Regions from separate parts of the Homo sapiens genome. Here regions 1 and 3 are each linked to region 2. The links come from fine-mapping of genetic effects on gene expression. A gene starts in region 2. Each other region holds a variant in brackets. All regions are shown on one strand. Distances are from middle to middle. Region 1 has its middle 6.8 kb from the start of ITGAD. Region 2 holds the start of ARMC5 (armadillo repeat containing 5). Region 3 has its middle 1.4 kb from the start of COX6A2.

Region 1 (2,760 bases), 73 kb before region 2:
TTGAGATGGAGTCTTGCTCTGTCGCCCAGGCTGGAGTGCAGTGGCATCATCTTGGCTCACTGCAACCTTTGCCTCCTGGGTTCAAGTGATTCTCCTGCCTCAGCCTCTTGAGTAGCTGGGATTACAGGCGCGCACCACCACGCCCAGCTAATTTTTGTATTTTTAGTATAGACGGGGGTTTCACCATGTTGGTCAGGCTGGTCTCGAACCCCTGACCTCATGATCTGCCTGCCTCAGGTAAAGCAATAGAGATTTCTTAGAACAACTGCTACATGTAGCTTTCCTATTCAAAAGTGATTAGTGTTGTCACCGAATACAGAGGAGACAGCAAAACCACAGTGACATAAATCAAAGGTGCTTTTTAAAGTAGCAAAAGTAGGTACAAGTCACATAATTTCCAAGAAGCTTGTAGAAATGGCAGTAGAGTTCATACCTGTATTGAAAGGTTGCTTTTGGCTGCAAATAATAGAAAAAAACAAAAGCATGTAAGAGCAGACAGAAGACCTTTACTCTGCAAGAGGTTCAGGTGCAGGTTAGTGTTTAATGCAGAGTCTCAGCATTGACAGATTCTTTCTGATCTTCCAATTGATCGTCCTTGCGGGGGCGGTTTAGTTCTTTCCCACTGACTAGGATTGGGTCAAATTCCATCCCCTTGGTTGCATGCAGTGCTGAGAAGGTGAGCATGTGCTTTTCACAGGCTTAATAAAAAGAGGTAGCTCCAGCCAGGTGCAGTGACTCATGCCTATAATCTCAGCACTTTGGGAGGCAGAGGTGGGTAGGTCACCTGAGGTCAGGAGATTGAGACCAGCCTGACCAACATGGCAAAACTCTGTCTCTACCGAAAATACAAAAATTAGCTGGGCATGGTGGCAGGTGCCTGTAATCCCAGCTACTTGGGAGGCTGAGGCAGGAGAATCGCTTGAACCTGAGAGGTGGAAGTTACAGTGAGCTGAGGTCATGCCACTGCACTCCAGCCTGGGGGACAGAGTAGAACTCTGTCTCAACAAAAAAAAAAAAAAAAAGAGAAAAAAAAAGGAGGGTAGCTCCACCAGCCAGGAAGGTGGCAGCGCTGGTGGCTGTTGGATAGGCTACCTACAGTGTCTGGCAAATACTATGCTTGAAGACTATGCTGTGAGCAAGATTCCTTTGTGAAGGAACAGCTTGGACATTGTGTATGTCAGAGGTATACAGCAGAATAGCAGTGACTAACGCTTGTGTGGGAGA[G/A]CAAGCATGTCACCTCATACTTGGAATAAGTCACTGCCATACAAAGTCTGAATCAGCTTTCATCTTTGTGCAACACATGTATGTGGGAGCTTTTCAGCTGCTGAAACCTCTAGTGACAGAAAAGGAGGTTTTGTTGTTCATTTGTAATTAATGTTAATCCTATGAGTGGTGGGAGAGATAGTGAGGTAGGAGATCAGCAGGACCTGTTTTCTGGTCACAACCCAGCTAATCAGAGCATGATCTGGTCAAGATGGGATGCACTAAAAAAACAGCCCAAACCAGCAGATGGCCAGGAAAGCAAACTCTCATTACCCTCGCCACTTATTAGCATAAAGACACTCCCACCGGTGCCATGACAGTTTACAAATGCCATGGAAACACACCATAGCAACGGTCAGCAAGTTACCTCATATGGTTCTGGAAACTCCCCACACCTTTTCCAGATAGTTCTGAATAACCCACCCCTTAATTTGCATGTAATTAAAAGTCGGTATAAGTACAGTTAGCCAGCAGCCCACTGGCTGCTACTGTGGGCTCACTGCCTATGGGTTGTCCTGCTCTGCAAGGAACAGCTACCTTGCTGCCACTGCTGCTTCAATAAACCTGCTTTCTTCCACCACAGGCTCGCTCTTCAGTTCTTTCCTGAGCAAAGTTAAGAACCCTCCCGGGCTAAGCCCCAATTTTGGAGCTTGCCTGCCCTGCATCAGTAGAATGGGCTAACTACTTATGGTGCACTCAGGCTAAAGAGGCTGATGCTTGCAGGGCAGTATTCACAGAGCACACGGTAGTTCACGGGATGCCTCTCACCCTTGACTCAGTGCTTAAGAAAGGAGGGAAAATGGTGAACATGATCAAATCATGGCCATTGCCTATTCATCTTTTCAGTGTTGTATGGAGGAATAGGCAAGTAGGAGATTGCTTTTCACATTAATGTCAAAGAGAAAGATAGTTACTTGGAACTTAAAAAAATTAATTGTGATAAAATATACATAACATAAAATTTACCATCTTAACCATTTTTAAGTATAGCCAATCTCAAGAGCTCTTTCTATCTTGTAAAACTGAAACCCTATACCCATTAAACAACTCCCAATTCTCCCCTTTCCCTAACTCCTGGCAACCACAATTCTTTCTGTCTCTATGAATTTGACTGCTTTGGCATGTCATAGAAATAGACTCATACAGCATTTGTCTTTTTGCGACTGGCATATTTTGCTTAGCATAATGTCCTCAAGGTTCACCCATGTGGTAGCATGTGTCAGAATTCCTCTCCTTTTGAAGGCTGAATAATATTCCATTGTGTGTATATACCACGTTTTGTTTATCCATTTGCCCATCAATGGGCATTTGGGTTGCTTTTTTTGCCTCTCATGAATGATGAATATGGGCGCACAAATATCTCTTCAAGACCATGCTTTCAATTCTCTTGGGTATACACCCAGAAGTGGAATTGCTGAATCATATGGTAATTTTTTTTTTTTTTTGAGACAGAATCTTGCTCTGTTGCCCAGGCTGGAGTGCAGTGGCACAATCAGA
Region 2 (2,760 bases):
GCTTTGCGCTAGGGCCCTGCCACACTGCAGGCAGACGCAGGGGTGCTGCTGTGGGCCGCCTAGTGGATGGGCAGGTGGGAGCTGTGGCCGAAGGTCTGGCCACACTCACCACCAAGCATCAGGTTTCCGGACTTTGTGACTGTGCTGGTGCCGCAGCAGATTCCAACTGTGCACAAAACTCTTACTACAAACAAGGCACTTAGAGGCCTTCTCACCCATGTGGAGCGCAGGTGCTGCAACAGGGTGGAGCCAAGGCTGAGACTCTTGCCGCAGTCCCCTCAGCGGTAAGGCTTTTAGCGGTGTGAGCGCGCTGGTGCTGGATCAGGTTGGAGCTGACGCTGAAAGTCTTACCACACTAGGCACAGGCATAGGGCCGAAGCGATGGTCACACTCGGGGCAGGAGTACGGCTTTTCACCGGTGTGTACCCAGTGGTGCTTAACCAGATCAGAGCCACATCGGAAGCTTCTGCCATAACCCGGACAACGGTAAGGCTTGTCACCAGAGGGGCTGCCTTGGTGGTGAATGAAGCCGGGGAGGCAGGCTGTGGTCAGTCCACATTTCCGGCACTCGCAGGTTTTGGGGCTTGTAGACGGTTGCTCTTGGCAAAGGCTTCTTCCTCCCCAGGGCTAGAGCCTGACCATTTTCCGGGCGGGCAGCTGCCCCGACCACACCAGGAAGGGCTGCTCAGGCGGAGCCACCTCGCAATCCAGGGGTGACCTGGGGGCTCCCCGGGACGCGAATGTCCCGCTCCCCCGCCGCCCCGCCCCGTCCGGATTCTCCCTCGCCTCTTCTGGCGCGGCCGACTGCGCTGCGAGTGAAGAACTCCCCGTTTCCTAGATGCCAGCTCCTGAGCTCACGAGCACGTCCAGAGCGGAGGACACTCGGGACACCGGGGTCCAGCTCCGGAAACGGAAAATTCCACAAGCCCGTCACTCTAGGAAGCGGCAGCGAACGTTCTCGGTAGGTTTAACCCTCTTCTTCCTCTGACCGAGCGAGGGCTCCCCGTCTGCGGCGCGGTCAGGACCCCGCACTTTCGGCCCGGCTCGGGGTTCTCGGAGTCCGTCCCAAGGCCGGGCCGCACCACCGCTGGGGGGCAGCGAAGCGAGCCTAGAGGAGAAAAGGCGGTCCCCGCCGAGTGCACGCCGGGGGCGGGGCACGGCACGAAGGCTCCGTGGTCGGACTTCTGGGCTGTTCGGAGGCCCTGGCCCACCTGGAGGGCCCTGGAAGAGTTTCCAGCGCTTCCCGAGGTAGGCGTGAGAAGCTCGACGCGGACCACATCTCCCTCATGCACCGCCCGCACGTCCCAGGATGCGCTGCGATTAAGGTACTGCCGCGCCTCGTGTGCAAGGACAGACTTCCGGGGTCGAGAACTACAACTTCCGACTTGCATCACTGCGGTGGCGCTAAACAGCGTCAGCGAGGCGGTGCCCGACGATTTCCCTGTCTTCCAGTTCCGCTCCCTGGGATCAGCGGCGAGAAGCGGGGCGGAGTCTGAGGCCCGAGCCAAGATGGCGGCTGCGAAGCCAACCCTCACGGACTCGCTCTCGTTCTGCCTCGCGCAGCTCGCGGCGGCGGCCGGGGAGGCTCTGGGTGGGGAAAAGGACCCAGCGACCAACGAGACACCCCTGAGCCGCGCGCTCCTAGCCCTCCGCACGCGCCACATCAAGGCAGCGGGGGGAATCGAGCGCTTCCGGGCACGCGGCGGGCTCCGCCCCCTACTCGCGCTGCTACGGCGAGCGGCTGCAGCGGGTTCCGCCCCGTCCCAGGCAGGCCCCGGCTCCGCCCCCTCGTCGGCCGCGTCGGGAGCTTCTAGCCCCGCCCCCGCGTCGGGCCCCGCCCCCTCCGCTGTGTCGTCGTCTAGTCCTACGCCGCCAGTGCGCCTGCGCAAGACGCTGGACTTGGCGCTCAGCATCCTAGCCGATTGCTGTACGGAAGGGGCGTGCCGGACCGAAGTGCGCAGACTCGGAGGCATACTCCCTTTGGGTAAGTGCTCCGCCCCCGTTTCCTAGAAAGATTAGGTTTGCAACTCCCTTGCTCTCTAGACCCGGGCAGTCTGGAGTTCTTTGTGTCCTATCCCGGAATAACGTGCTTTGTGATGGCGCATCGCTCCTGTTTCTCAATCTGTTGTGCCCCGTGACGTCACTGCACTCTCTATAGATGAGAGAGAGCCCTCCCAGACCAGATAATTGTAGCCATTATCTAGGAATTGGTTGTTGAGGACTTCTTTCGAAGCTGGACTAGCGGAGGCCAAAGAGTTATTTGGTGATTTTTTCAGATGATTCTTACCGTCCAGTTATGATGTTCATAGCAGACATTCAGTGCCCAACTATGTGTCCGGCCCTGTGCAAGGTTCTGAAGCCCCACTGATGAGCTGGAAGGTGTAGTGGTTCAGAAAGGGAGATCTGCAAAAGTCACCTAACCCCTCCGAGGCTAGGATTCCTTGTAAAATGGGGCAATAATAGCTACCTAAAAAAATCAGAGTGGGGAGAAAACGAAGTACAAATATGGCACGAATATGCAAATATTCTAAGCATGATACGTATTTCAAGTTATTAAAAACTAGCATAAGCTGGGTGCAGTGGTACGCGCCTGTAGTTCCAGCTATTTGGGAGGCTGAGGCGGGAGGATCCCTTGAGCCTAGGAGGTTGAGGCTGCAGTGAACAATGACTGCCTGTGAATAGCCACTGCATTCCAGCCTGGGCAACGTAACAAGACCTCGTATCTTAGAAAACCAAACAAATCAGTAGTCGCTTAGGAAG
Region 3 (2,760 bases), 30 kb before region 2:
TCCCCTCTCTGGGCCAATCACCTGTTGAGTCTGGAGCACTGGCGGCTATTCTTAGGGGTTTCTATATTTAAAATGGGGCCTGACTGGCTTGAGGTCATCTCCAGACAGCTGTTGTCCTGTGCCTCTTATTTTGGCAAGGAGGCATTTAAGTACAATATGCCATTCTTTTTATATAGTTGCAGGGAAACTATTTTGTTCCCTATTCTATGCCTGGTGGCTGGCACACAGTTGGGCTTTAATAAATATTTGTAGAATGAATTAAGTGTCTTTTTGAGTCTCAGTGTTTTCAGCTGTAAAATGTATAATAATTCGTACCTTAAAAGATTTTTTAAATACTGGAGACGGGGATCTCACTATATTGTCCAGGCTGGTGTGGAACTCTTGAGCTCACGTGATCCTCCCGCCTCAGCCTCCCACAGTGCTGGGATTACAGGCATGAGCCACTACACGGCCCTTACATCATTTTTATGAAGTTTATGTAAGGTAGGAATGTGTCAACCTGGATTTTGGCAGGTAACAGTAGTTCAGTATATGTATTAGTCACAGTTCTTTGCAAAGAACAGAACTCACTCTTACTAGTTTTAGAAGATAAGTAATTGAGAATCTTAGGTAGCTTACTATGTCTGATATAGCCAGAGATGCCTACAGTCTGCACAGTCATAAACAAGTCATTCCGTTGGCCAGCTGCAGTGACACCCCCACAGCTCACACTGCTGGACCCTGGATGCCAAAAGCTTCATTAAGGCTGCCCTGGAAAACCAGAATTTTCCACCCTCATCCCCTCTTGAAAACAGATTCTTCATGAAACCTGTATCCTGGGTCGCTCTTTTCTGAAAGAATTATGTGATTGCACCAACTGGCAACCCCTAGGTCCCCCAGCTGCAGGAGGGGATGGGAAACTGAGCTCTGGATTCTGCCTTAGGGAGGCAGGAATTGTAGGGAAAATCTCCAGGTCTAGGATGAGTATTCAAAAGGTTCCAGGCAGCCACAAGCCTGACAGGTGTCTACTGCAAAGTGCATTATTTCAATCTGAAAAATATGACTACTTGGAGAAAGCAAGCCTAGACAGGGCTGGTGTGAACCCTCTATCAAAGCAGGTCACAAGAAAGCCACAAGACCAGGCAGGGATGACATCTGCCTGTTCTGTCCTCAGCAACGGGCAGGGACCTTGGCATGAAGGAGGTGTTCTAAAAATATGTATGTAATGAATGCTTGAACCTTGTTACTTTGGTTAACCCTACAACAATGCCTTTTCAGAATTACAATCCAATAGGAAGCTTCTAGCTTTGATCAAGGGCTGATGTACTAATATGAACTTAATATACAAAAGAAGAATGAATTATATAGACATATAATCTGAATTTA[A/T]TATATAAAAAAAACGAGGAAGATATATTTTCAAGAAGGGGCTCTATACCTGTTTCTCATTGGTAATAAACTGAACAGTATGTTCCATCCAACTTTAAGCTGCTGCTATTTTTAAAAAAAATAACCTCCTTGAGCAGTCAAATGTTATACAGTGTTACAAAAATTATTCCTGAGCTCTCACTGAGCTATAATAGAATTCTTCCTACAGTTTTTTTCCCAGCTGGACTTTGGCATTGTTGCAGAGAAGATGGGGCCCTATTCCAGTTAAAGATACCTGGCATCTCCCTCTACACATAGCCCCCTCCCTACGTATATAAGATAATGGCTCCTGGAGAAAACAGACATGAAGACAGGTATTTTTACTTGACAAAGTTCTAGAGGCCTGGCATAGTGGCCCACGCTTGTAATCCCAGCACTTTTGGGAGAATGAGGAGGGCGGATCACTTGAGGTCAAGAGTTTGAGTCCTGCCTGGCCAACATGGTGAAACCCCATCTCTACTAAAAATGCAAAAATTAGCTGGGTGTGGTGGCCCGTGCCTGTAATCCCAGCTACTCGGGAGGCTGAGGCAGGAGAATCGCTTGATCCCAGGAGGTGGAGGTTGTAGTGAGCCAAGATTGTGCCACTGCACTTCAGCCTGGGTGACAGAGTAAGACTCTCTCAAGAAAAAAAAAAAGAAGGAAAAAAGGAAGAAAAGGTTCTAGGTTTCTTTTCTCCCCTAAAAGGCCCCTCAGAGTTTTTCTGGTTGCTGCCAAACAATTCCCTGGGAATTCCCATCCCTTTGTTCTCAGCTTGGGAGCTCCTGTGGAGAGGTTTTCTTGCTGGGATGTCAAGAACGCCCTGAGGAGGGCCACTTCTGTCCTGGGCTGCTGTCACCATCACGAGGTGCACTTGCCCAGGTACCCAGAGACCTCCGCTCAGGTGGTCTGTGCTTTTCTGGGCTTGTCACCATCTTACCTGCCTCTCTAGAGGGTGTGCAGAGCTGTCTCTTCCAGGCTGTGCACTCACCATTGTTTCTGTAAGTTCTCACTCACACAGTTCTTAACCTGGCTGCTGCCAACACTTTCAGTTTCTAGAGGTTTAATTTTTCCTCCACTTTAGGCAGAGGGAAGAACAAACTCACCAGGTGCTAAATAAACCCCGGAGGGCAGCATCTCAGCCTCTGTTCAGAGTATCTCAGCTGTTGGTGGTGAAGGAGGTGGAGGCATGACTCAGGGTCAGTTTCTCTTGTGCCCTCTTCCTGGGATGCTGCATACCATGACCACATTTTCTAAAGCAAAGATCGATTACATGTGATCTACTAAGTATAAATGTTTATGGGGGCCCTAGGGACAGCGTATTTGAAATTAGAATAGTCCTGGAAAAACAACTGTGATACAGGACATGGGTTAGCTAGA

What was found. PIP is the estimated chance that this variant, and not a neighbour inherited with it, causes the effect. A credible set is the group of variants that fine-mapping cannot tell apart.
Region 1: its variant is the best candidate, but not a certain one, in a credible set for the expression of ARMC5 in whole blood (TOPMed, PIP 0.50).
Region 3: its variant is the best candidate, but not a certain one, in a credible set for the expression of ARMC5 in whole blood (TOPMed, PIP 0.50).

The regions. Positions count from the first base shown.
Region 1 is chr16:31,385,194-31,387,953 of GRCh38, forward strand. No RefSeq gene overlaps it. Among named protein-coding and RNA genes, the nearest start is that of ITGAD, 6.8 kb to the right of the region's middle. The variant G/A (reference allele first, on the strand shown) is at 1,225.
Region 2 is chr16:31,458,016-31,460,775 of GRCh38, forward strand. ARMC5 (armadillo repeat containing 5) reads left to right here and starts at 1,486. Exons shown (of 6, transcript NM_001105247.2): 1 at 1,486-1,984. The coding sequence starts at 1,510. RefSeq lists enhancers at 616-1,156, 1,155-1,494 and a silencer at 1,685-2,034.
Region 3 is chr16:31,428,389-31,431,148 of GRCh38, forward strand. No RefSeq gene overlaps it. Among named protein-coding and RNA genes, the nearest start is that of COX6A2, 1.4 kb to the left of the region's middle. The variant A/T (reference allele first, on the strand shown) is at 1,366.